Homo sapiens: one gene and its partners. The protein of the gene in region 4 purifies or fractionates together with the protein of the main gene of each other region. This does not show direct contact. Each region holds a gene or a part of one and is shown on either strand. Other genes may lie near its edges.

Region 1 (7,632 bases), on a different chromosome or scaffold from region 4:
GAGGTCAGGTTTTCAGTTTGGGGTATGTGCCACCTAACAGTGAGCTGTGGAACTGCAACACACTCGGCAAATTCAAAAAAGACAAGGACATCTTCGTTGATTTTTAAGACATACCATAGATAGGGTAAACCAAAACCTCTCATTTCAGATCCTTAACCTCAATTAAAAACAACCCTTCATGCCTATTTAAAACATCCCTTGCAAAAGATGGTTTGAATATTCCAAGTTGGAAATACCCAGTCTTTTAAAGTTACAGCACCCTTTTTGATACAAAAAATGTGCATGACAGAAATTGTACAGTGAGTAGTGTTATAAAAATAACCAAACACACCAAAAGCTGCCACGGGTAAATTTGAGAAAGTGTTGAAATGTACCGCACAGCATGAGACCTTGCTGGCTCCGTCTAATAGATGACGCTGGGGCTGCAAATGATGTCCCAGCCTTCCAGGGCCTGTGGTCTCCAGAACAGGGCTGAAACCTGTTCTGAGTTGACAGTGCTTTCCCAAGGAGACCCCAAGTTGAGAGGACCCTCTTACCCACTCATCAATAATCAAAGCAGACTTGATGCCCATCAGAGATGCCCAATGATTCTGGTGAGCCGTTCCTCCCTCTGGCTGTCAGTACTGGGGAGTATGGTGGGGACTTTCAGATAGCTCAGTGGAGCTCAGAAAGAGAGGGAGTTCCCCCTGACACCCGCCCCAGTCAGTAAGCCCCGGGGCCTGAGGGGCATCCCCACTGCTCGACCTCTCCACTCTCTCGGGGAGGACGAGGCAGCCTTGACCCACGAGGGCTGATGAATGGGTAGGTTATCGGCAGGCTCCTAGGCCACCAGCTTAGAGGTCACATTGTCCCTTTTAGATTCAGTGTGGCGGGAATCTAAAAGGTCAAGGATCGAGAAGCCTGCAGGATGGCAACGTGAGGGAACCTGGCAGTGCGACCTCAGGAATCCACTCCCGGAACTCTGACTGGGGTGCCTGTGGAGGCTCTGAAGGTACAGCAGCCAGGCGCTCTGTGGCATTCTGAATACTGGCACGCAGCCTTCGGCCTCTGCCAGCTTTTGTGAGCTGCCCTGCACCAGGCAGAGGGGGCCCCCAGGCCTGGCACAGGGTCTGACACATGGCAAATGCTACAGAAATAGCTGTGGACCGCCTGACTGCAAGATCGTATTGAACATCTGGTGCCGGGCCTCAGCCTGTGCTGCTGCAGCCAGGAGCAAATACGGGGAAGTCTGGCTAAGGAGAACGCGTGCCTGTGTGGGCCCCAAGGATCCATCTCCAGATCAGGAGGAACAAGCCCGATGACCTTGACAGGCAGCTCAGGAGGTTTCTGGCTCCTGCCCCAGAGGCCCAAGATGAGGACGTGGCAACATAGGGAGGCCCAGGGAATGATGAGCTCAGGGAGAGGTGGCCAGACCACCTGAGACACCTGTTAAAGTGCACTTTCCCATGCCCAGAACTGCGAGCTCCTGAGACCAGTTGCAGAAACCAGCATGTTTTACTGGCTCCCAGGCGGTTCTGATGGAGGATGTCCCAGGAGGGGACTCTGAGATGGGCTATTTGTAATCTACGGCAACTGCCTCACAACAGAGTGTGTTCGTGGAGAAGAGGAAACTGGGCACCGAGGGCTCAGAAGCAGATGGCAGATAATCAGGAATATGTGAAAAATTATGGCACCTCCATATATAATAAAATATTACAGACATTTCTAAGGGAAAAGGTAGGCTTCTGAGAAATGACACAGAGATTGCCTATGACATTAAGTGTACAAAACCAGGGAACGTTAACAGTACACACAGAACAAGCAATCACATCTTGTGACATACATGTTACAAACATACACATGTATAACATATATCCCTGTGTGCATATGTGCACAACTGATGGCTGGCAGATGGATCCCTAATCCATTGTCATCTGTTAGCCCTGAGCAGGTGGGAGAAAAGGGCAGGATGTTCTGGCCCTGAATTACATGCTCTGTATCCTTTTTTCTTTTCATGATAAGCACATGTTATGATTTACTATTATCCTATTTCATATTTGATGATATGAAAATTATTTTCCTTTCTCTAAGTATAACAGTATTATGGTTATACTTCAAAAGAGGCAATATTTTTCAGAGACAGTGATCGGAAAATGGAACCATCTGGGATTTGCTTCGAAACAATTCAGAGATGGGGGAGTGGGTGAGGATGAGAGGAACAAGACTATGTGAGTGGGAAACGGGGGGAGCTGCTGTTTTATTCCCTGCTCTTGGAATGTTGAAGAATTTAAAAAATGCTTTTAAAAAGATAGTTTCATTTTTGGAAAAGTAGGAAACAGCCTTAGGGGGAGATAAAGACTTGAAAAGCCCAGGCTCTCGGCAGAGAAGACAGCGGGGATAGGGGTGGGAGGGCTGGAGCCAGGCGTGAAGAGCTTGCTGGGCTCTGCCAGGATTGTTCTGGATCCTCTCCACCCAAACTAAAAGTCCTCCAACCCTCCAGGTTAAAAATGGGGGTTACAAGAGCTCTGCCACACAAATGGAGGGTTCCTGCTGCATTCATCAAGAAAAAAAAAAAAGTTGCTGCAAGACCCTCCCCCACCCACCCACACCTATCCGTCAAGCATCTAAGACAGAGGTCTCAGGACTAACAAGCTGATCATAAAAATGCCCCAGGATCCCACTTTGTTTGTGAACCACTGGTTCACAAAAGAGAACACACCCATGTTTATGTCAATGGCAATTTTGCAAAGCATGTTTCACAGGAAAGTTCAGATGTTTTGACTCACCAGGGAATTTCAAAATGCTTACCATGATCCGAGGTAAATGCAATGATGGTGCTGTTGGCCAGCTGAAGATCGTCCAAAGCACTCAAGAGGCGGCCGACCTGTGTATCCAAATATGACACAGAGGCAAAGTAGCTCTGGCGGATTTTCCGCTGCAAATTGAAAAAAAATAAAAATGAGAGTGACTGCAATTTAAATTGCCAAGGCATACAGAGATAATGCTTGCCTGTGCATCTCTCCCAATCCCTACCCCTTAGTTGATGCCCTTAATGATTTTCTCAGCCAAAATGTAACACTCCTTTCCCTACCATCAGCATCACTTCACCCACAGAGTCACAGCAAAATCTGTAGGTCTACAAATAAGATACATTTCTAAGCAAATCAGATTTCACTTTAGGGCACAGATCACAGTGGATGAATGTGTCACCTACTGCTCTGTTGTTTTAAGCTGAAATGTATTGTCTCCTAGCTCTGGAGGCTAGAAGTCCAAGATCAAGGTGCTGGGAGGGCCATTCTCTCCCTGAAGGCTCTAAGTAGAAGAATCTTGCCTCTCCCTAGCTGGTGGTGGTGGCTGTCAGTCCCTGGCATTCCTCAGCTTGCAGCTGTATCACTGTGTCTCCATCTTCATGTGTTCTTCCCGTGTCTCTCTCCCCTCTTCTTAAAGGACACCGATCATATTGGATTAGGAGCCCACCTTACTCCAATATGACCTGATCTTAACTAATTACATCTGCAATAAACCTATTTCCAAATATGGTTACATTCAGCAGTACTGGGGGGTTAGGATGTCAACAGCCCTTTTCAGGGAAAAAAAAATTCATAATTTAACACATAACAGCAACCCTGACTGAGCCTTTCCCTCTGATCACTTGCTAACCCAACAGCAGATTACAACTGCATATCTTCATGAACTATGGCCGTTACGTGGAGCTCATTTCTAACAAACTGTCAGCAGGCAGGAGAAGAGCAAAGGAGATACCAGAGAGCAGCACGTCCTTCACAGTCCCTGAACCCAAGAGGCACTTTGGGAACAGCCAGATCATGCCCTGAAGTAAATGAGCCACCGGCCCCTCCTGGGCTGACTCTCATTCCCAACCTGGTTCACAAATGCTAAGGACAAAAATTAATCTTCCACCCCAAAGAGGGGTGAGAAGAGAGCCGTGTCTTCGCAGACCAGCCCCTGACTTATCAGCTGGACCCACCAGCTTCTTCTCATCACTGCCAGGGTGAGGACAATCATGAGACTCACCCGTTCTCACTTGCAGTCAAGAGAAAAGATATACATCTAGCCTTCCAGCAGGATTATGCTGAGCCCTGGCCTACTTATACTTTCTGGTAGATGAAGTCTTCAGTCTGAAACCTGTGGAACTTTGGTCCTCCTGGGGATGAAAGACACCTGTCAGGATGGCTATGTCCTATACAAAGGTATTCCCTCCTTCCTATGCTAGCCCCTGGACGTAAGGCAATAAGCAGACAAGGTCCTCACCCTTGATGAGCCACCCCATCCAGTGAGGACACAATCATGGAGACAAGAAAATGCTTAATTATCAGTGAGGCCTGCTGGGTCTGTCCTGCAGACCCTGGCCTATGGATGAAATGAGTACTCAGACACAGGTATGCAGCATAAGAGCAGCTAGGTTACTGCCTGGCTCTAGTGGCCAGAGAGCAGCCCCGAGAAGCTGGAGCTGCTGGCTTTTATTCAGTGCAGGCATAATGCCAAAAACCTAGAGCCAACCTGCAGGTAATTAACATTTATTGTTCCCCTTTCAGGGAACCTCACAAGCACAGACGATCAAAGGTCAGTTCCTGGTCAACATAAGTAAACAAGCCTGTTTAAGATAAATTCTCCCACACTCCCTTGTACCTACTCCTTGCCCTCTGCCTCAGGGTTATAGAACAGCTATTCTCCCCTGGGGCTCTGCAGAACCTTCTGACCTTTCAGAAGGTTTGCATCCTTTCCCTATAGTTTTTCCCACCACTCTGACCGATCCCCCACAGAGGCCCAGGGGTGACACAGGGGAATAAGCCCTCAAATCTGCCTGGGAGATTCAGGGAAGGCTTCACAGAGGAGTTAGAATTTGACAAGAAGCACCTGCAGTCAGACAAATGGGGCTCAGATGCTCCAAGCAGGGGCTGCAGGGCACGGAACAGTGTGGAGTTGTGACAGAGCAGGTTGCATTTGGGGCCAATGAAAGGCCCATGTGACTGGAGAATCAAATGGGAGGGCAGAGGGGTGACTAGAAAGTTAGGTCCGGGCCAGATAATATGGACCTGGTGGGTCTATCCAGGGAGTGGAGACTCCAAGTTCTAGGCCAATGGAGTCACTGAGGTCTTTCAAGGCGAGAAATTGACATGATCTGGGCTTCAAGTTATTAAGAGTCCTGTTGCAACAGGACACAGACACAGATTCCAGAGGCTTTAGACAAAATGGTACTAGGCCACTGCTGGGTACATAAGAGGTGCTCACTACACTTGCTGAATGAACAAAACAAAGCAAGGCCCACTGAGGTGGTCCAGAACAATGTGCTGAAGGATCCAGAGGACTGTGTGGATGTGAGAGGAATTCAGGGGCATCAAGCAGACATGGGGGCAGGGAGCAGAGGAGGAGGAGGTGTTGAGGAACCCAAGGGTGACTCCAGGTTTCACATTCAGCTGGTGGCATAATTCGCTGGCATTTGGGGGCAGGGGGCGCAAGAGGAGGAGGAGGAAGGAGAAAAGGCAGGGCAGGGGTGGTGGCCTGACCACGCGGAAGCCTATGGAGCTGAGGTCTCCAGGGTCATCTGCCTAGGAATGGCTCTCACAGGCAGGTCAACACACATATCTGAAAATCAGGAGAGACCTGGGCTGAAGGGGTAGTTCTGGAGTCATCTGCCAAGGCTCAACTGAGCCCAGCAGGGGAAGAAGAGGTGGAAAGGATATAGTGGGGGGCCTGGGAAGTGGCACCTAAGTGGCAGACACAGAAAGGATTGGGAGGCCAACAGTCCCAGAAGGGGTGGAGCTGGCCAACAGTGAGGAAGTGACACAGAGCTCAAGGAAGGTCAGGACCTACACAGATAGATTTTACTGGCCACCAAGGTCAGTGCTGAGGTGAGAGTTTAGTGGATTGGGGAGGTGGAAGCCTGTGTAGAGGATGGTGAAGAACAAATGGACAATGAGGCCACAGACACAGCCAGAACAGCCCAGTGTGCACTCGCTCTGCCTTGGAGGTCAGGTGAAGGAGTGGAAAGCAGAAACAGGCAGGGGCAAGGGGGCTGGCACTTTTGCAGCTGGGAGGGATGAGAGTGGATGGAGAGGCTGCAGGGTAGGTAGGTGAGAAGGAAGATCTTGCTCATTCTGCTTGCAGACGTGGGAAGCAGGGACAGTGGTGGGGAGTTGAGGGAAGAGGCCTCGAGCCCAGAACATGCATACACAAAATTCCAGGTCTCAGTGACAGAGATTATTAATAGAGCCCATTCAGCAAGTACACACTAGGTGGCATCTGATCCTGTGAACGGCACATTAAGGACTCCAAGACTCAGAAAGGTTAACTTGCCCAGAGTCACACAGCTGATAAGGGGCACAGCCAGGATGCGTACCCACATCCACCCTGTCCGATCCCCTACCTCTGGCTGTCCACCAGCTTCCATTTCTACAAGAGGAAAGGTGCTATCCACTGAGAAATGGGGCACAGGGGTGGCAAAGGCCTGGAGGGGAGCAGTGAAAGGGAGTAGAGAAGAGGTCATGCAAACGGAGCAGCTGCAGAGGACAAGTGAGGTGAGCTGAGCAGAGAGCTTGCCTGGGCTGCTGGGGCTGGAGGCGGGGCATCTGAGGGCCTCCCTGCTTCGTGGGGGCATGGATTTTCTCCAGCAGCTTTCAGGACTTGGACTACAGAGCAGAGGGTGTGGCTGGAGTGTCTGACGATAAAGGTACTGCAGGAGGGGCAAGGATAAATGGACAAGTATGGTGAGCTGGGCGGCTGGGAAGTACAGTAAGTCACCTGCCACCAGGCCTTAGCTATTTAGGGAAGCAACAAAGCCAACAGGACCTGGACACAAGGGGGAGATAGAAATCCATACTCTAGCAATCCCCGTGAGGTAGAGCAAGGGAAGTGCTAGGAGAAGAGGTTGTGGTCAGTATGGTGACTCGGAAGGAGCAGGCAACAAACTCCTGAGTGTGGCCCCTGAGGTCACTGGCTCATGTAGAGCTGAGTTAGAGGGCTGGAGCTGAAGAGATCCCAGAGCTGAGTCTCAAGGGTGCAGTGAGATGGGCTTGGATGCGGACATCCAAAGCTACAAGAGGACAGTGAGCAGGCCAGAGTTCAAGGGGAACACAGGGCTGAGACCAGCACATGCAGGCATCAGGGAGGCCCTCTGAGTCATGCTGTCCACTGTGTGTAAGGAGGGGACTAAGAGAACTTGAAGGAGATAGCTCCGTGCAGCCGACACGGTCCTAGATACTTCTACATGCTCTCTTTGGTTCTTGCTGAAAATCTCTAAAGTAGGTGTTATCATGGAAAAACTTTACCTACCTTGTTTCAGTTTTATAGAGAAGAAAACTCAGGGAGGCTCAGGGAGGTAACATGACTTGACAGAGGTTAGGCAGCTGGTATGAGGTAGAACATGAATTCGAACCCACACTGCTGGGAACCAACAGATCCAACCATGGGGCTTTGGAGTTACAGTCCCTGGGGATGAATTGGCTCCACCCAGCACTAATTTTGTGCTGTCAGACAAGTCAGCACACCTCCCATGCCTTGAGTTTCCTCACCTAGACAACAGAGAGCAGGTACCTCACTAAGTCCCCATGAGGACTAAAGGCGATACCACACATGAATCAGCGCCCTTCCTGGCACACAGTCCATTTTGAAGGGTCATTTTAAGTGACCATCACT
Region 2 (8,395 bases), on a different chromosome or scaffold from region 4:
CAAACTTCTCCACCAGGTGTGATTTCTCCCTGTCCCAGCGGCAGCTGTTCTGGGCACGAGAAGGAGCCTTGATTCTTGTGCCTCAGTCAGGGGTCTTGAACTTTGGGTGCTTTTCACCTTTCAGAGCCTTTCCTCCCATGGCGCATCCAGCTGCGTGAAGACAGAATCAACACTCCTAGTTGATCTTTGATGGAAATTGCTCTGAGTACGGTCATTTTTGCTCCCTTCGAGGATCTGAGATGCTGCAGGAGTCATATTGGGAGTTACTACCGAGACCCGCTTTGCATCTCCTCAAGGGAAGTTAACTGTCTAGTTCAGGCTCAAGAGACTAGTTGGTCTCTTAAGTCTCTTTTGGAAAGAAGGTCTGAGATTCCTCGGCTGTCCCTTTAGCCCTCCTGCTTTTTTCCCCTCCTTAGTCCTTCCAGACCCGAGCTTGGTCGGCCCTTTCTGTTAGCACCCAGCATGGCATGGATGCTCAGGAAATGCTGGTTGACTTTTGGCTAAGTCCTGCCACCTGGGTACTCTGGCTCATCTTTGCTGTTGCTGAGCCCCTAAATCTCCAGTGCCTTCTCCCACACAGGAGGCCTCTTTCTCCAGGTGCCTGGCTGCTCTTCAGGGGCCTGCACATCCCTGTAGACAGGGGTGGGCAAGAGAGTTTTTCTTGGGGATGTTGCCCATAACTTCTGTGATATCTTCCCAAAAGTCCATCGCCCCAAAGAGGAACCAAATTTATACTTACCCTGTCAAGGCTGCTGGGATCACAGTTCATCAATGGGATAGCATGATTTCCATTAGCCTTTCCTTGGCTGTCCCCCACAGTCCCCAAGCCATCCCACCACTGCCAACAAAATCAAAGTCCCAAATCAGAGAAAAACATATCCCATCCTATTGTCATGGATAAGTTGCCAAGAATAAGATAGTAAGGGGACAGGTGGTGAACAAGGGGTCCGTGTGCTGATGTCCTTGTACACTGCGGCTGTCCTCTATGAGCAGACTGAAGAAACAGATACCAGGTAGCTGGGGCCTGTAGGAGTCAGGGTTCTCTAGAGAGACAGAACCAACAGGGTGTGTGCATGTCTGCAGATTATGCATATATCAGAAGTGCGGTTGCCAAAGGAAATATTTGGTTGCTCTTGGGGGCCATGGACTTTTATGGAGGATAAACAGAAGTTATGGGCAATGTCCCTCCAGAGATATATATATGGAGAGAGACAAAGAGCAATTTTCAGAATTTGGCTTACATGATTGTGGGGGCTGGCAGGCCAGAAATCTGCATGCCACCAGGCTGAAAATTCCCGAGGGAGTTGATGTCAAGGAGGTCTGGAAGCAGAATTCTTTTCTGTTCGGGAACCTGTCTTTTCTGTGAAGGCCCTCAACAGATTGGATGAGGCCCACTACATTTTGGAGGGTCAGCTGCTTTGCTCAAAGTCTACTGATTTAAATGTTAATCACATATCAAAAATACCTTCAGGGCAACATCTAGGCTGCTGTTTGACTAAACAACTGGGCACAGTATCCTAGCCAAGTTGACACCTAAAGTGACCCATAACGGGGATGTCAGCTCGAACCACATTTCATGGCGGACCAGCCCCTCAGAGCCTGGCTGAAGACTGAAAACCTGTTTATCCAATGGCTGACTGAGCTGTGAAGCACCCAGCAAAGAGCCCCACTGTGCTCCTCCCCGCCCCATGAGCTGAGGGATCCTGCCATCTGTTCATCCCTCTAAGGACATCTGAGGGAGGCATTGTGATGCTGGATGGTGACTGTGTTTTCCAAACCAAAATCTGACACACATGGGCTGGCAGATAGGAATGTAGTTATGAAAAGAACAGGGCAGGATGTTGGGAATCATGATCATGGTGGAAAATTTGGGATTTGCAGTCCCGACTTGTGGAGAAGACTCCAGAACCCAGAAGTGCTGCCCTTGAGTCCTGGCCATGACTATCTGTGTGGCCTTGAGCCAGGAGGTGCTGTTGCCTCTCTGTGACCCTCTGGAAGGTGCAGACATCAGCCGCTCCAGGACAGTGAGCTGCCAAGTCTCTCCTAATCCCAACAGTCTGATCAGCTCCTATCAAGATGCCCAGGCCGGCTTCCCAGGCTGCCCTGGATCAAGCCACACTAAACTTAATCCAGCAGGAATGCCATTTCTTTTGAGTTTTTTTCTCCCCTAAATGCATAAAGAGTAAAAAAAAAAAAAAAAAAAAAAAAGCATTAACAAAACATTTAAACTTGTATTTTAATGTATTCTACCACAAAAGGGCAGCATCACAGATTCTGGCTTTGCCTTCTGTGTTCTTCAAGAAAGGCATCTTGGCATGGTCTCAAGAAGAGATATTCCAAATTTTAGAACATCCCAATAGAACGGTTGGATCTGGAACCCCAACTTCCTGCACATGAGGAGCCAGCTGAGCACCAGAATGTGATTTTGGGATCCCGATAAAAGTCACCCTGGGCCAGGCGCGGTGGCTCACACCTATAAACCCAACACTTTGGGAGGCTGAGGTGGGCAGATCACTTGAAGTCAGGAGTTTGAGATGAGCCTGGCCAACATGGTGAAACCCCGTCTGTACTAAAAATACAAAAAATAGCCAGGCATGGTGGCATGTGCCTGTAGTCCCAGCTACTGGAGAGGCTGAAGCAGGAGAATCACTTGAACCCAGGAGGTGGAGGTTGCAGTGAGCAGAGATCACGCCACTGCACTCCAGCCTGGGTGACAGACCAAGATTCCATCTCAAAAAAACAAAAGTCACCCTGACCTGTGAGCCACACCTGGCAGTATCATTGTTGGACATGTGGCCATATGAGGCAGAGGGCCAGTCTTTCTGCCATCATGGTTTTGGAAAGGGGTCATGAATAGTCTGCTACTAATCATGGATGGTGAGGATGGCTGACCATGACTGTGACCTCATGTCATCTCATGGGATCAGCTTGACAGCCCCATTAGTTGGATGCTATTGTCCCTGTAGTTTACAGGAAGAAGCTGAGCCCAGGAGGCGGAGTCAGTTGGCCAAGGTTGCAGAGCTTGTGAGTAGGGACTGGGCTGCCAGCCCAGAAGTTTGGCCCTGAAGCCTGCCCTGTAAGCCTCCTCCTGTGTGCATGTTCCCAACATGGGCTTCTTAGGTGACTAATATGCCATCTTAGATGACTCCTGCTTTCGTTCATTTAATATGTTTTCCCAGAGTGCCTCACCTGGGTCAGTATTGAATGGGGCTCTGGGACCCAAGAATGAATAAAAGACATGGTTCCCCATCCGTGACTGATTAAGGGTGGTTTTGTTCTTTTTGAGACAGTGTCTCATTCTGTCGCCCAGGCTGAAGTGCAGTGATGCAATCATAGGTCACTGCAACTTTGAACTCCTGGGCTCAATCGAATCTCCCACCTCAGCCTCCCGAGTAGCTGGAACCACAGGTGCGTGTCACCATGCCTAGCTAATTTAGTAATTTTTTTTTTTTTTTGTAGAGATCGGGTCTTGTTACATTGTTAGGGCTGGGGTTTTGTTCTTTTTGATAGTGATGATTCATATATATAATTCTATGTAATCATATATTTACCCTTTTGCAAGATTATTTTTATTAACATATGTTAACACATGGGCAAAACCCAAATCCTTGGTCCATCACAAGTCCTAAATTTTATTCTGGAAATGTAGCCTTGGCTTGCATAGAAGCATGTGATTTTCCTTTAGCCTACCAGAGCCCTTGGTGGTTTCTCTGTGGGTAAGAGGGGCTGGTTGAGTGTGCACTCCAAGCAAACCAGAAGGTTTGTCCTGATGTCAGAGATGCTGGGACAGAGGGGGCTGAGTCTAGGCGAGAGGGCGAGGGACCCCCAGGCCATGAGTCTCATTCCTGGTGCAGGATTTTTCTTTTCTTGGCTGCTGCTCTGTGCCTTGTTCTGTCTTCTTGCTTCTTGGTGTGGTTACGGGAGCAGGGCAGACATAGGAGGTGGGACTGCTCAAATCCATCTCTTCTTGCAGATCCAGCTTCACACTTTGGTTTAGAGACTCCTGGGGTTTAGAGAGGAATGGGGCCTGGGGCCCACTCATCCAAATTGTCACGTGGAGGAGGAACAGATCCCTTTGTAGGGGTTAAGAGCTCAAACTGTGGGCTCGAATGCCTGGGCTGAAATCTGGATCTGCCACTTAGGAGATGTCACCTCTGAGACCTTCAGTGTCCCCATCTAGAGAGTGGGGGAATAGATAGCACTCTATGAGGAAAGATGTTTTCAGGATGACACAAGAAAGTACACAGGGCGTGGTTAGCACAGCGCCTACAATCTAGTAAACACTCAACGTCTTGAAGATGGTGGCCACAATGATAACAACACAACCTCCAGCCCTGCAGAAGCCCTTCCTGGGCCAAAACCAGTCCTCCTGCCATATCCAATCCTGTGATTGGAGGATGCTGGCTGGTGAGTAGAAAGTCCTTGCTCAAGTTCTGCTGGGGTCCACCTCTTTGGACCTTCTGACTCTGATCTTAGCTCCTGGAGTGCCCCGGAGCAAACCTGTCCACCCTGTCCCCTGCAGGACGGTCTGTTAGCCTCAATTAGCAGAAAGCTTACAGACTCTGGGAAAAGGTGTGCCTGGCTGTCTGCTGTTGCTGATAAGCAGCCTGATAAAGACTCTGTGGTCAAAGGTTGCTGGGCTGGGCTGAGATTCAGTCCCGCCCTTCCAGCCCCTCCTTTCTGCTTTCTATTGCTTCCCTCTCCCCTTGGTAAATCACTGAAAGTTTTCAGTAATGGGGCATGGCGCTCTTTGCGGGCACCCGTCTGGGGCTGTGTCTGTGAAATAGGAGGTAGGGGTGGTGATTGGGGTGATTAGGGTCTCAGTTCAGGAGAACAGGAATGATCTGTTTACCTCTTTGTTAAACACCTATGCTGAGAGCTCTGTGAGGCATCTGTGGCTCTCATGTCCTTGGTACGTCCAGCAGAGTAGATATAATGCCTTGTAATTTGCAGCTGAGGACCCCATGGGGCACCAGTAGCCTCACTTCTGACTTCACCCAGCATTGCCCAGGACCTGAAGTGGGTGTCACCAACTGGGAGTCACCAGGAAGCAATCGAGGAAATCCCACAGACATCTATTTAGAAAACATCATTTCATGATGTGCTTTTGAGACGGGCATGTGAAAGAAGAGGGTGTTGGCCAGATTAAAAGGGACCCTGAGCTTGAGGTTCTGACTGATCATGGTTTCAGGAGGTTTTTCCCCTCACATAACCATTTCTATCTCTTCCTTAGAAATTAGCACACTTTTGGGTACCAGTTTTGAGTTGGAGTGGCATATTTCTTAGAACACTGGACGGCAAGATACTTCTTTAAAATTGGGGAGACTTAGGGCTAAGTTTCGCAGTTTGTTGGAAAGGTCAGTCCTACGAGGACTTTTCTGTTGGGGATGCACAGGTAGAAAGCCCGTTTTCTGCCCCAGAGTCAGCAGGAAGTGTGAGTGGTCCAGGAACAAAAACAGACTTGGTGGAATGCAACTAATCTCCACTTGGGAGACAGAGGGACTTGAGGCTGGAAGGCAGTTTGATTTGTAGCAAGAAAACTTGGTACAAAGAGGTTGTGACCCTGTGTGACCCCGAGGGAGAATTTGGATTTGTGCTAGATGAAAGGGCCATTACAGTGAGGAACTTGGCCTTCAATCTGAAGGCACATGAAAGGCTCTGATGTGTCTGGTCATGTTTGTTCCTGCAAGAATTTAAAACAAAGGAAGCTGGGAGGCAAACAATGCTTCTGCTTTATAATTCCAGTTCCAAACCTCAGAGGGGGAGCTGTAAAGGGTGACCCTGTCTACGGCACCACCCCGCGTTCCAGTGTATTGGAAGTGGATGGTCTCTGTTTTGCATGAGAAAGTGACCTGGTCTCCTTCCTTGTCATGTTTCAGTTGAAACAGAGTTCCTCAAAATTGGAAATGCACACACACATACACACAGACTTTTGCCCACTTTGGAATAGAAATTAATTGCACTCGGAAAATAAATTGCAGAGCATGGCTGAGTACAGACAGCCACATGTGAATGAATTGTTTGTCCGCATAGTTTTGGGGGCTTCGGAATCCTGGCTCACCCACCAAACCTCCCAAGAATAGACAGACAGGATGAGGCATCAGCTCTCTTTCTCATCTGCCCCACCTCAGAGTCTTAGGAGGGCCAAGAGCTTTGGGAGACCTTGGGGACATTCACAGGCTTGGAAGCACTGGCCTCTTCTTCTTTTGTGGCCTCCTCAGGGCAGACTTGGTGGGAGCTCTTAATAAACAGTAACTCAGGAACAGAACAGTCAGGGAGGCCTGGTCCCTGGCCCAGTAATTGAAAAACCAGAAACAGCTTCATTTCATATGCATTGATGACAAAAGTACCGACAGACGCAACCAAAAACATGACTGGCCCGCTGGTGGACAGTTTCGCCCCACAACTTGGGGAGCGCAAATTGCTTTGCCGAGAGTCAGAAGCAACTACATGAGACAGCAGAGGTCCATGTAACTTTTCTGGATTTTTAGGAATCTGATTTCCATGGGTCTCTTGCAGGGCTGAGAATAGACTGGGGTGAGTGAGGCACTCCCTCATGTACAAACTTTCAGGAGGCACCAGAAAGTAGGAAAAAACAAGTAAAATGTAATGCACTATTTTCAGAAAGCCAAAATGAGTGCAAAAAAAAATTCATAATCGACCAAATATTGTTTTTAGTAAAGGCAGGATCCAGCCCTGAGCTTGCTCCACTTACCTCACCTGCCTCACCCTAATCCCAGCCCTGGCATCTTGCTTGAGGATAAAGCCTGTGTCTCTAATAGAGACTCAGTAGTTTGAGGTAAGTGATAAATCTATTGGAGCTATTACTGGAAAGGGGTCCCGATCCAGACCCCAAGAGAGGGTTCTTGCACCTCGAGCAAGAAAGAATTCAAGGCAAGTCCATAGAGTAAAGCGAAAGCAAATGTATTAGAGAAGTAAAGAAACAAAAGAATGGCTGCTCCATAGAGCAGTGGTATGGGCTGCTTGATTGAGTATACTTACAGTTATTTTTCGATCCTATGCTAAACAAGGGGTGGGTTATTCATGAATTCCTGGAACTGAGGTTCCCCCTTCCTAGACCATATAGGGTGACTTCCTGATGTTGCCATGGCATTTGTAAACTGTCATGGCGCTGGTGGGAGTGTCTTTTAGTGGCTAATGCATTATAATTAGCATATAATGAGCAGTGAGGACAACAGAAGGTCACTTGGGTTGCCATCTTGGTTTTGGTGGATTTTGGCCATGTTTTTTTTTTTTTTCCACGTCCTGTTTTATTAGTGGGAGTCTTTGTGAGCAATGTCTTGTGTGGACCTCCCGTCTCATCCAATGAGTAAGAATGCCTCACCTTCTGGCAATGCAGCCTCATTCTACCCAGCCCCTATTCAAGATAGAGTTGCTCTGGTTCGAACACCTCTGACAGAGCTACCAAAAGGGCATTACACAAGGACACAGACAATTAGGTTAGGTGGAAGATGAGCGTATCTTTACGGTCATTGTGATGGTAAGCATAAGTCTTGCTCATGAAGATCTTTTCCATCCTTAACCTGGTATCTCCTGAAAATTAGCAAGAGTGTCTTCTCTTGCTTTCTTTAAATTATTCAAAGCATGTATCATGGTGTCGGCATTTTTTTTAATCCCTTTGCACATAACCCCATCCTTATGAAAATACTTGCTCCCTGTTTTCCCTCTTCTCTTTCCACTGCTGGGAACTATTTTGAGCCCTGTCTGTCTGCAGCTTTGCATAAAGTTATAATGAGGCTGGGCCAGGCAGCCATGGATTTCTCATGCCTACATTCGGCCTGGAATTCAGAAGGGTCACTGGGGGCTGGGGAGAGAAACTCTAGCCTAACTCGTTTGATGCATTTTGGTTGTACCAGATGGAGGGAAACTGCTAATCTGTAGGATTCCATAGACGGCTTAATTCCCCAAGTTTTGGAGGAGTTTGTTTCTCTAATTTTTTTTTTAGCCATAAGTCTTGAAAATCCTGCACCACATAACAAAAACCAGAGGTATTTTTCTGTTGTTCTCCTTTCCTTTGACCCCCTGGTGCTTCCTCCAAGTATCCTTAAGTGTGCAGGTGCCTGTGTTAGGGGAGGAATAGGTCTATGGTCCAATGAGCTGATGAGATGATAAATGCTGCGACTTTGAGATTCTTTTTAATCTCAGCCTTATGGTAATAGGCCATGGAAGAGTGTAAACAGTTTGGGCTAAGGCTTTCTAAATACAGTTGATGAGATCCTGGGAACCACTTATCTTGGGTGGAGTGGAGCACCTCACTTTGAGTTTGGTGTTAGCGCTGGGGCAAAGGTCTAAGGCCTTCTCCAGTGATTGTGCTATTTAAGGATGTTCAAGGGATGGTGAGGGCCTTTGGAAACATCTGAGTGGAGTTTGGAGC
Region 3 (8,395 bases), on a different chromosome or scaffold from region 4:
ATTTTTGGATCCCAGATTTCTCCTGAAACCTTCTCTGATAGCACACACCATGGGTTTTTTTTTAATCTGCTTCAAATTCCTATTAATTTATCAGTATCACACAATTTAGGACCTAATTATTCTCCTATTGGATCAAGTATTTTATTTAGTTAAGGAGATAAACTTGATTAGCTTTCGAGTCCCTTGGCCATCTTATGCTTCTTGGACAAGGCTCATGGAAGTTGTTATGGGATGAATTGTGTCTCCCAAAAAGACATGTTGAAGTCTTAATCCCTGTAAGCTGGGAATGTGACCTTATTTGGAAATAGGGTGGCTGCAGGTATAATTAGTTTAGATAAGATCATATTGGAGTAGGGTCAGCCCTAATTCCAAAATCACTGCTGTCCTTATAAGAAGAAGAGAAGCCCAGACAGAGAGGAGACAGCCATGTGAAAACGGAAGCAGAGATTGGTGATCCGCAGCTACAAACCGAAGACTGCCTACCTTAGAAGGTAGGAAGAGGCAAGGAGGGATTCCCTAGATGCTTCAGAGCCCTGTGGACACCTTGACTTTGGACTTCTATCTTCAAGATTGTGAGAGAGTACCACCCATTTTGTGGTACTTTGTTACAGCCACCTTGGAAACTAATACTTAGATGCTCCATAAGTACGTATTGATTGGTTGATTAATAATATCCATCCTGCTGCTTAGACATCATAGCAATGTTGGGACTATCAGAAGCTGTGGTTACGGGCTGAACGTGGTGACTCATGCCTGTAATCCCAGCACTTTGGGAGGCCAAGGCGGGTGGATCACTGCAGGTCAGGAGTTCGAGACCAGCCTGACCAGTATAGCAAAATCCTGTCTCTACTAAAAATACAAAAACTAGTTGGGCGTGGTAGCACATGCCTGTAATCCCAGCTACTAAGGAGGCTGAGGTAGGAGAATTGCTTGAACCCAGGAGGTAGAGGTTTCATTGAGCTGAGATTGAGCCACTGCACTCCAGCCTGAGTGACAGAGTGAGACTCCATCTCAAAAAAAAAAAAAAAAAAAGCTGTGATTATGAAATCACTGTGAAAATGTGAGGGAAGTGGCTGCAACTTCTTGAGCACTTACATGCCAGACACTGGGCTCTAGTACTTTGCAAACAATCCTCACCCTCCAATAAGGAGCTATTAAGACCCTCACTTAACAGATGTGAAAACTGAGGCTTAAAGAATTTAACTAACTTGTTCCAGGTCACTTGTCTAGTAAGTGATAGTGCAGGGATTTGGGCTCCACTGCACTCTTCTTGAGAGTGGGAAGCACCCCAGCAATGAAGGAGCCCTCTGGGCACGCGGCAGGTGCCATGCCCAGGCTCTTCATGTGCATCGTTTCGTCAGACCTCTCGGCAGCTCCCCGTAGTGTTATTATCATTCTCATTTCACGTGAGGAAACTGAGAGCTAGGAAGATGAAATAACTTGTCCAGGGTTCTGCAGCTTACAGGTAGCCAGCCAAAATATGAACCCACAGTTTTGGACTCCAGAGCCCACATTCTTCACTAGCTGAGCTTCCATTAAGCCACACGGGCAGCTCCGTTGACATAGGTGCCATCGCCTTTTGGTGCCTGCTTTCCTTATTACAGGTGTAAGTTTCCCAGAAGACATAACCAGCCTCTGAGAGTGATCCCAGCCAGTGTAACTCATGAGTTCCCTTTCCAGAGCCTTGTTCCCAGCCTCATCCACCAGACTTAGCGTCATTCTCCTCATCATCCTATAATTGTTGGAATGAGTTTGGTGCACAGTTTTGGAGAGCTTCTGCCTCTCCAAATCAGACACCTTTAATCAAAGGTGTCTGGGTCAAGAACACTTTCCAGAATGTGTTGTCACACTCCTAGGGACTCCAGACTCTCTTTCCTTAACTCGGAATGAAGTGACATTGCCCATCACTGCCACTTCCTCTCCTCCTTCTCCCTTTCTTCTTCTACATGAGCCTATTTGGAATGTGTTTATTAAAATCTATTGTGGGATCACATATTTCATGATCACAAATCTTCTTAAAATAAGAGGAAACAGAGCCTGATACTAGTTCACCTTTTACGTAATATCCTGATGTCGTATGTACCATGAGTAACTAAGTAATATTGTTAAAAACCTTCTGTATGCCCCATTCCCTCAAAGGAATAGAAATTCTTCTAAGAGGTTAGGGTTGTCAGTTATCACCAAGTGCCTGTGCTGTTGGTTTGGGACCTGTAGAACTTCCAGAAATCAAGGAAAACCAAAGCAAATAAAACGAAACAAAGTAAAAATCCCTTAGAGTATATGATTCAGAATGGTTTTAGTTCTTCAAGGGCAAACCTTACAATCTGCTAATCACTTAAATATGTATATTGGAATTTCTGATTGGCTTTAATATTTTGGTTCCCAGTCTTAACTTATATATGTTAGGCCTCTCATATTACTTGGTAAAAATCTCCCGATTCTGCTAATTGCATCAATAAAGGTTTATTGTTTCCCATAAAATGCTTTAATGAGTTTTTATTAGCCTTAGTTTCATTTATTTAAAAAATTTTATTGTATTCATAATTCTCAATCAAAATACCTTTAATGATCACTAGTTGATATATAATGTTGAGGATGGAAAGACTGGGATTAAAAGATACTTAATGATGTTTTTCCCTGAGCAGAGTGGCCAGATGAATGTTTTTGAACCCCTGGAGGAGGGTTGCAAAGAATCCGACCTGAATATGCAGACATTTCTAGTTGGACCCACAACTGCTCACATTCCATAGATTTCTGGTATTAATAATAAAAAAATATTAAAAAATAGCTACCAACTCAAGTGCCATGTGTCAGGTACTATGCTAAGCACACACACAGAAAGTGAGGTGATAATGCCATTGCTATTGTTAGCTTAAAACAATCATACAATCTATAAATTTAGAAAAGGAGACTTTATTTCTTCTAAAGGGTTACAGCCTTCAAGGTGGCCATCCTACAGGCTGGGAAGCGAGCTCCCAGCCAAGAGCAGATGCAGGCACTTGGAAGGGGGAGCAGCTGGGGTAGGAGCTTTATGCTGAGAGGGTTGGCTAAATATACCTATTTAACAGATCACAGAAGGGGCTATGAAAATTTGTGAAGATGGTCCTGACATACACATATTGAACAAACATGCATGTAACATATGACCTATGTTTATTTGGGGGTAGAAACTTAACATTTAAATGTATTATAATTAGATCCTATACATCAAAAGGTCTTTCAGGATATGAAGGCCCACAAGTGCACAGCCTCTGTAAACCATCCAGAACCACTTCATGGTCTTTTAATCAGGAGAAAGTTACTAAAATCAGTCTCTTGTGCAATCAAAGCTGTAGTTACGGCTGGTGGAACAGAGGGTCTCAGCTAGTCAGTGTCTGATGGTAGATGAGCTGCAATTGCTTCAACACTGCTTATCTCAAGGCCAGTGATTGTTTAGCTGCTAGAGAAGAAGAAAACCCCTGTGGCAGTTAGAGTTGATTCTTTAAGTGTAGGGGTGCATGACTTCACCCTCGCCTGGCATGGCCTTAGGTCCTGTTTATAATTTGGTATATTATTGCCACAAAGAGGCTGTTCTGCCAGTCTTATGATCTCTATTTAAACATTAATGCTGGTCATTTGTTGTGTCTAAACCACAAAAGGGAGAGGGTATAATGAGGTGTGTCTGACCTCCTGTCCCATCATGACCGGAAACTCGATTTAAAGGTTTTTCTGGAGTCCTCTTGGCCAAGAAGGGCTCTATTCAGTCAGTGGGTGGCTTAGAACTTTATTTTTAGTTTATACTTATCTATAGACTAGGATGCTGAGGCTTCAAAAAATTAAATGACTTGCCAAGGTGATACAGATGTAACAGACAGATCCCAGATTCACACACAAATCTTTCAGAAGTCAAAGCCCTTCCTCTAATGGCTATACCTGTGGTTCTTAAAGCCTGGTCTGAGGACCCCAGAGATTCCTGGGGGGGACCTTTCTAGGGGCTTTTCCAACCACACTTGAGACCACTTGAGGCCACATCCTCTTATACTCCAATCAAAACAACATAGCAACAGACTGAATTCAGAGGCACATATGAAGATTCAGTTGTCTTTTTTTTAAGCCGGATGTTAAAGAGCCTTGCAAAATTGTAAAACAGTGCAACTCTTCTCATGAAATGTTTGTTTCATTTTGAAAAGTATAATTATTTGCCTTAAATATATGTTATGTTAACATATAATAAATTTATTTCAGGTTGAGCATCTCTACTCTGAAAATTCGAAATCTGAAATGCACCCAAATCTGAAACTTTTTTATTTTTTGAGACAGAGTCTCGCTCTGTTGACTGATCTCCACTCACTGCAACCACTGCTTCCTGGGGTCAAGTTATTCTCCTGCCTCAGCCTCCCAAGTAGCTAGGACTACAGGCATGCACCACCATGCCCAGCTAGTTTTTCTATTTTTAGTAGAGAGGGGGTTTCACCATGTTGGCCAGGCTGGTCTCGAACTCCTGAGCTCAAGTGATCCACCCGCTTCCACCTCCTAAAAAGCTGGGATTATAGGCGTGGGCCACCACGCCAGCAAAATTCGAAACTTTTTGAGAACCAACATGCTAGTCAAAGGAAATGCTCACTGGAGTATTGCAGATTAAGGATGCTTAGCCATCAAGTAAAATGCAAAATTCAAAAAGATCTGAAATCCGAAACACTTCTGGTCCTAAGCATTTCAGATAAGGGGCACTCAACCTATATTAAAAAAAAATTAATGCACACATATTTTTAAATTCTCATTTATAATGTATAATTTGTTAAATGTTGACATACGTAACTCACAGACAAAAGCTCTCAGCAATCCCTATTAATTTTGGGGACACAGAGGGGACATGAGGGGTGCCGAGACCAAAATGTTTGAGAATTGCTGCATTACACAATTGTTTCTGTGGGAGTTTGTGCTGCCAGCTAGGCTTCCTTCTGTGTTCATAGTCTAGGGATTTGATTCTTTGCTACTTTTTCTTCTTAGATTAGTTTTTTGTTTTTTTTTTTTTTTTTTTGGCTGGGTCTAACATTCAGTTCTTCTCTTTCTTCCTTAGATAGAGAGAGCCATTTCCTTGCCACAGCAATTTTTGAAGTCTATTTTCCCAGTGCCATTTAAGGGAGCTTATCCATGAGAGCACTTAGAGGGTGGGTCTTTGGTGAGTGGATTTGCCTGCTGTCCTTCTCCTTGTGCCAGCATCATGAGTCCCTGGGAGACTTCTGGAGGGTTAGGTTTCACTGCAGTGATTGATGCCAGGTACCCAGGCGTATTAATTAATACTAATCATCACCATCACAGCAAGCATTCAGGGAACTTACCATGTGCCCAGCACCGTGCTAAGCTTTATGTCACACTTCAGTTTCCCCTCAAATCCTCAAAACAGCCCTGTAGGGTAGATATTATTCCCATTTGCTAGGTGAGCAAACTGAGGCTTCAAGAGCTGTGGTTTCACACAGCTAAGAAGTGGCCAGAGGCAGCTTTTGAATCCCTGGTCAGGCGTCTGTGTTGAGATAACCTGAAATTCCTGTTGCCAAGCATGACTTTCTCATCAGACCTTACACTTCTGCGCTGCTCTAAGATGATGATGACTTCCTCCGAGCATTAGTATTTCGTTTTGATTTCTCCCCTTTTGACATTTTCAACACATGGGTTTGATCTGTGTTACCTAATATGCAACACAGTTCACAAAACACCATGTGTTTTTAGATCCTTGTTGGATATCCAGAAAGAAGTCTTTAGCATCAAAGGATCAAGAAGTCCTTCCACTTCGAGAGGCAATGGCTTCGATAGTGAAGGTGCAGTGAGGACGATTCCGGGGGGACTGACTGTCGAATAACTGGGCATGGGATCTGGCAGAGGAGAGTGGGAACAGATCCTGCTGCCTGGAACAACACATCGGGGCACCTCTTGGCATGTTAATGACAGTGTCATTAGCAGCTGTAGTATCGTTTATGTCTTCCACAGTTCTGAGAAAAAGTACTGCTCTGGCACTGGGTGGCCTTCGTTTTCCGAGGCTCATGGTACGTCTGGCTCTGATGAAAGCCACACAGGGATCCTGAGACGTCTGGATACCTCGTTAGGATCAGCTCGCACAGAGGTTGTCTGCAAGCAGGTGAGGTTTCTCATTTTGTTTTACTTTCCCTGATGCTGCCCCCAATGCCACAAAGAGCTCTCTTGTTCTTGGCAAATCTGGTGTCCTTTTATAGGGGTACTTTCTTTTGTCTTCAGAACACATGGGGTTTCTTTTTTGTTTTGCTTTGTTTTGTTTTGTTTTGTTTTGTTTTGAGACAGTCTCGCTCTGTTTTGCAGGCTGGAGTGCAGTGGCATGATCTCAGCTCACTGCAGCCTCCACCTCCTGAGTTCAAGTGCCTCAGCCTCCCGAGTAGTTGGGATTACAGGTGCCTGCCACCACACCCAGTGAATTTTTGTATTTTTAGTAGAGATGAGGTTTCGCCATGTTGGCCAGGCTGGTCTCAAACTCCTGACCGCAAGTGATCCACCTGCCTCGGCCTCCCAAAGTGCTGGGATTACAGGCGTGGGCCACCACACCCAGCCCAGAACACATGGGGTTTCTACACATGCCAATAACGATCACTCTCTCCCTTCAATCTGGGCACTGCAAAAAAGAGAAAAGTCTTCTCCAGCCTCTCTCTAATGTGGCCTTTCCTGGTTCTAACCTTCCACAGAGATGAGAACAGAGGTAGGATCTTCACCTTCTTTTGAGCAGGGATAAGGAGCAGGAAGTCCTTATCCTGTCAGAGTGACTGGCATCTCATCTTTGACTTACCCAGTGTGACTGGCACCTCCATCTCTCCACCCTCCTTTTGCACCCTGCAGCGTGTCACTGGCCTGCAGAGCAATGCTGCGGGTGACGTCAGCACCTCTGCCTTCTGTGAGCCCCGTAGGAGAGAGTGGCTTAAATCCAGATCACAAATTCATTTTGATATCCTTAGCTGCTCACATTTTCTGACTCATGGGTTTTGTAAAACATTAGAGGCAAGCTGATTAAGATAGCGTGGTTTTGCCTTAAGTAATAAATAATAATAATACACTGGGTACTACAATATTATTCAGTACTTACCCAGGAATTATGTTAATGCTTTACATGTAATATATCAATTAATTGTCCCCACAGCTCTCTTATGTAGGTATGATAATTATCCCCATTTTTAGATGAGTAACTGTAAAGGCCCAAATTTAATAACTTGCTCACATCCTATTGATAAAGTAAAACTATTTACCATGACTGTGTTCTGCTTTCTTTCATTTCTTAATTGAATTCGGATGCAATAGACTTTTTCTCCTAACACAGATGTCAGACTCCGGAGTGGAGTGATTTTGGGGGGGTTCGTCTGTCTGGTTTTACATAAAGAGCTTTGTTTGCATTTGGAGATGACAGAGGCTTCTGTCCTTTGCAGTGTGAAGCTCATCTAGGTCACGTGTTTCCTGATGGACCTGGGCCCAATGGTCAGAGGTTTTGCATCAACAGTGTGGCTTTGAAGTTCAAACCAAGGAAACACTGACCATCTTCAAGAGTCCCGTTCCCTTGCCACCCCTTCACGTGCACCCTCAATTTCCACAATTCACTTGAATGACTTGTTTTATTTGCAATAAAACTGGGCTGAATTTGCTGCTGTCTCCAGCGAGTCATTGCTTCTCTTAATTTATTTACCTGGAATCAACTTAATCCTGTGTGTTAGGCTGTTCTTGTGTTGCTATAAAGAAGTACCTGATCAGGATCTGGGAGAATTTGAAAAAAAAAGAAAAACTAGAAAAATAAACAAAATTAAAAAGAAAAAAAAATACCTGAGACTGAGTAACTTATAAAGAAAAGAGGTTTAATTGACTCACAGTTCTGCAGGGTGTACAGAAAGCATGGTGCCAGCATTTGCTCGGATTCTGGGGAGACCTGAGGGAGCTTTTACTCATGGCAGAAGGTGAAGGGGGAGCCGGCGTCTCACATGGCAAAGCAGGAGCAAGAGAGAGTGGTAGGGAGGTGCCACATACTTTTAAACAGCCAGATCTCTCAAGAACTCACTCACTGTCACCAGGACAGCACCAAGCCATGAGGGATCCACCCTCATGACCCAGTTACCTCCCGGCAGGGCCCACCTCCGGCACTAGGAATTATACTTCAACATAAGATTTGGAGAGGGAAAACATCCAAACCATATCACCCAACTCCCACTTGGAGTAGAACTTCACAAAACGACAGAGGGACAGCTGTTTCCATCAAACACTTCCACAGCTTCACCTGAGACGAGGGCATGACTCTGGGAACATCAGGAGGCTGATGGACTATTAAGCCAAACAATTCCTACAAAAATTCCCTGCACCTTCCACTGCGTTTCAGTCCTTGACAGACATAAGTAAGGGATCAAGTGAGAAGAGG
Region 4 (3,500 bases):
GGAGGCTGGGCCTGGAGAATAAGAGTCAAGCAGGGGTAGAAAATGAGGTAGCGGAATCAGCCCTTACCTGCCTCCAAAATGCCTTTTCCACTGGAAGCCACCAGAGTACAGACTGCGAAAAAGAAGGAGACCGACTGCAAGATGCTCCGGCCCAGCAAAGGCACCTCCCCGACTGAGCCACAGGACGCAGAACAGAGACGTCAGGCTGAGACTCAGGTGGTCTAAGTGAGGTTGTGGCTGATTTTTTTTTTTTTTTTTTTTTTTTTTTTTTGAGACAAGATCTTGCTCTGTCACTCAGGCTAGAGTGCAGTGGCACCATCAGAGCTCACTGCAGTCTCAACCTCCTGGACTCAGGTAATCCTCCCACCTCAACCTCCTGAGTAGCTGGGACTACAGGTGTGCATGACCATGCCCAGCTAATTTTCTTTTTTTTCTTTTTTTTGTAGATATGGGATCTATGTTGCCCAGGCTGGTCTTGAATTCTTGGGCTCAAGCAATTGTCCCACCTCGGCCTCCCAAAGTGCTGGGGTTACAGGCGTGAGCTGCTGCGCCCAGCTGAGACTGGAATCTTTATAGAGCCCATCTTACCACCCTTATTAGAGGTTGGCTTGCCAAGGTGATCTCTCTTTTTTTTTTTCTTTTGAGACACAGTCTCACTCTGTCACCCAGGCTGGAGTGCAGTGGCGCCATCTCGGCTCACTGCAACCTCTGCCTTCCAGGTTCAAGCGATTCTCATGCCTCAGCCTCCTGAGTAGCTCAGATTACAGGAGCGTGCCACCATGCCTGTCTAATTTTTGTATTTTTAGTATAGACGGGGTTTCGCCATGTTGGTCTTGAACTCCTGACCTCAGGTGATCCACTCACCTCAGCCTCTCAAAGTGCTGAGATTATAGGCATGAGACACCACGCTCGGCCCACCAAGGTGATCTCTTGATTCAAGTTCCTTGGATCCTATCCTGACTTGGACATTTAGGCAAGAGCTAACTTGGGTTCAGGGTTAACTTCCTGGGAGTGTGTACTGATCTGACGCTCCATGGTGAGTTTCTCTTGCTTCCCCTCTGCCTCCACCTCTCAGGTCTGATTCTCCACTGTGTCCCAGGTAACCCATGTCCCACAGGATTCCCTGTCCAGGTCCCACTCCTATCCCCTCAGCTGCAAGACCAGGTTCTCTCACCTTCATTGGCTGGGTGGCTTTGTTTCTCAGCTCATCAGAGACAAAGTCCTCAAAGACAAAGCTCCATCCAAACATCTCAGCTTCTGTCCGATACTTTTTCTCCCTGACAAAATCCCTATAAAGACATAGTTCAGCTGGTTCAGCTGGTGAGGTTCTGTGCCCACCCCATCTTCTCCTGCTCCAGGAAACTTCAGATATCCCTGTCCTGTAAGTTATACACCACAGAGTGTTCATGATTGCCAAGGAATTAACCTGAAGCCTGAGTGATTTTCTTTTAAATTAGAATACAACGAATTCACATACAGTAAAATTCACTCTCTTCAGTGTTTAGTTCTGTGAGGTTAATTAATTTTTTATTTTATTTGTTTGTTTATTTGTGTATTTATTTAGAGATGGAGTCTCACTCTGTCGCCCAGGCTGGAGTGCAATGGTGTGATCTCGGCTCACTGCAAGCTCCGCCTCCCGGTTTCACGCCATTCTCCTGCCTCAGCCTCCCAAGTAGCTGGGATTACAGGCGTCTGCCACCACGCCCAGGTAATTTTTGTATTTTTAGTAGTGACAGGGTTTCACCATGTTGGCCAGGCTGGTCTCGAACTCCTGACCTAGTGATCCACCTGCCTCGGCCTCCCAAAGGGCTGAGATTACAGGCGTGAGCCACCACACCTGTCCTATTTATTTATTTTTTTGAGACAAAGTCTCACTCTGTTGCCCAGGCTGGAGTGCAGTGACACAATCTCAGCTCACTGCAACCTCCACCTCCCAGGTTCAAGTGATTCTCTAGCCTCAGTCTCTTAAGTAGCTGGGATTACAGACGTATACCACCACGCCCAGCTAATTTTTGTATTTTTTGTAAAGATAGGGTTTCGCAATGTTAGCCAGGCTGGTCTCGAACTCCTAACTTCAGGTGATCCACCCAAAGTGGCCTCCCAAAGTGTTGGGATTACAGGTGTGAGGCACAACACTTGGCCAATATTTTTTTTTTTTTTTTTTGAGACAGAGTCTTGCTCTGTCTCAAAAAGACTGTTGCCCAGGCTGGAGTGCAGTGGTGCAATCTCAGCTCACTGCAACCTCCACCTCCTGGGTTCAAGCGATTCTCTTGCCTCAGCTTCCCCAGTAGCTGGGATTACAGGTGCACACCACCATGCCCACTAATTTTTGTCTTTTTAGTAGAGACGGGTTTCACCATGTTGGCCAGGCTGGTCTCAAACTCCTGACTTCATGATCTGCCCGCCTCGGCCTCCCAAAGTGCTGGGATTGCAGGCATGAGCCACTGTGCCCAAATTATTTTTTATTTAATTATTTATTTATTTATTTATTTATTTATTTTTAGACGGAGTCTCACTCTATGGCCCAGGCTTGAGTGCAGTGGCATGAACTCAGCTCACTGCAACCTCTACCTCCTGGGTTCAAGCGATAATCTTGCCTCAGCCTCCTGAGTAGCTGGGATTACAGGTGTATGCCAGCACACCCGGCTAATTTTTGTATTTTTAGTAGTGATGGGGTTTCACCATGTTGGTCAGGTTGGTCTTGAACTCCTGACCTTGTGATCTGCCTGCCTCAGCCTCCCAAAGTGCTGGGATTACAGGTGTGAGCCACTGCGCCCAACCAATCATTTATTTTTTTGACACCAGGTCTCACTCTGTCACCCAGGCTGGAGTGCAGTGGCACAATCATGGCTTACTGTAGCATCGACCTCCTGGGTTCAAGAGATTCTCGTGCCTCAGCCTCCTGATTTATTTTAATTATTTATATTTTGAGACTGGGTCTCACTCTGTCACCCAGACTGCAGTGCAGTGGCATAATCACAGCTCACTGCAGCCTTGACCTCCTGGGCCCAAGCAATTTTCCCTCCTCAGCCTCCCAAGTAGCTGTGACTACAGGTGCATGCCACCATGCCTAGCTAATTTTGTAGAGATGGGGTCTCACTATGTTGCCCAGGCTGGTCTAAAAATTCTGAGCTCAAGTGATCCACACACCTCGGACTCCCAAAGTGTTGGGACTACAGGCATGAGCCACTGTGCTCAGCAGTTCTGTGAGTTTGACAAAGCATATAGTCACTACAATAATCAAGATACAGAATAGTTCCATCGGTCACCTCCAAAAAAATTTCCCTGCAACTCACCAACCACGGACCAGGTTTTTTTGTCCCTATAGTTTTGCCTTTCCCAGAACACCATATAACTTGAATCATACAGTATGTAGTCTTCTGGGTCTGGCGGAGGTTTCCTTCACTTAGCAAAAGGCTTCTGAGATTCATCCATGTTGTTGCCATTAGTAGTCTGTCCCTTTTTATCGATGAGTAGTATCTTATTGTATGGACATACCA

The links.
Region 1: the proteins of SUMF2 (region 4) and IDS purify together in Homo sapiens (co-immunoprecipitation; one study listed by IntAct). This does not show direct contact.
Region 2: the proteins of SUMF2 (region 4) and EDN3 purify together in Homo sapiens (co-immunoprecipitation; one large-scale study listed by IntAct). This does not show direct contact.
Region 3: the proteins of SUMF2 (region 4) and MSRB2 fractionate together in Homo sapiens (co-fractionation; one large-scale study listed by BioGRID). This does not show direct contact.

What each region holds. Positions count from the first base shown.
Region 1 is NC_000023.11:149,487,527-149,495,158, forward strand, and holds part of IDS (iduronate 2-sulfatase isoform a preproprotein), read right to left. Parts: intron 4,142-7,632; exon of another isoform or gene 4,012-4,141; intron 2,915-4,011; coding exon 2,788-2,914; intron 1-2,787. UniProt on the Homo sapiens protein: Lysosomal enzyme involved in the degradation pathway of dermatan sulfate and heparan sulfate.
Region 2 is NC_000020.11:59,304,412-59,312,806, forward strand, and holds part of EDN3 (endothelin-3 isoform 1 preproprotein), read left to right. Parts: intron 1-8,395. UniProt on the Homo sapiens protein: Endothelins are endothelium-derived vasoconstrictor peptides.
Region 3 is NC_000010.11:23,113,337-23,121,731, forward strand, and holds part of MSRB2 (methionine-R-sulfoxide reductase B2, mitochondrial precursor), read left to right. Parts: intron 1-5,709; coding exon of another isoform or gene 5,710-5,839; exon of another isoform or gene 5,840-5,967; coding exon 5,968-6,115; intron 6,116-7,421; coding exon 7,422-7,526; 3' UTR 7,527-8,395. UniProt on the Homo sapiens protein: Methionine-sulfoxide reductase that specifically reduces methionine (R)-sulfoxide back to methionine.
Region 4 is NC_000007.14:56,070,786-56,074,285, reverse strand, and holds part of SUMF2 (inactive C-alpha-formylglycine-generating enzyme 2 isoform b precursor), read right to left. Parts: intron 1,290-3,500; coding exon 1,175-1,289; intron 113-1,174; coding exon 68-112; intron 1-67. UniProt on the Homo sapiens protein: Lacks formylglycine generating activity and is unable to convert newly synthesized inactive sulfatases to their active form. Inhibits the activation of sulfatases by SUMF1.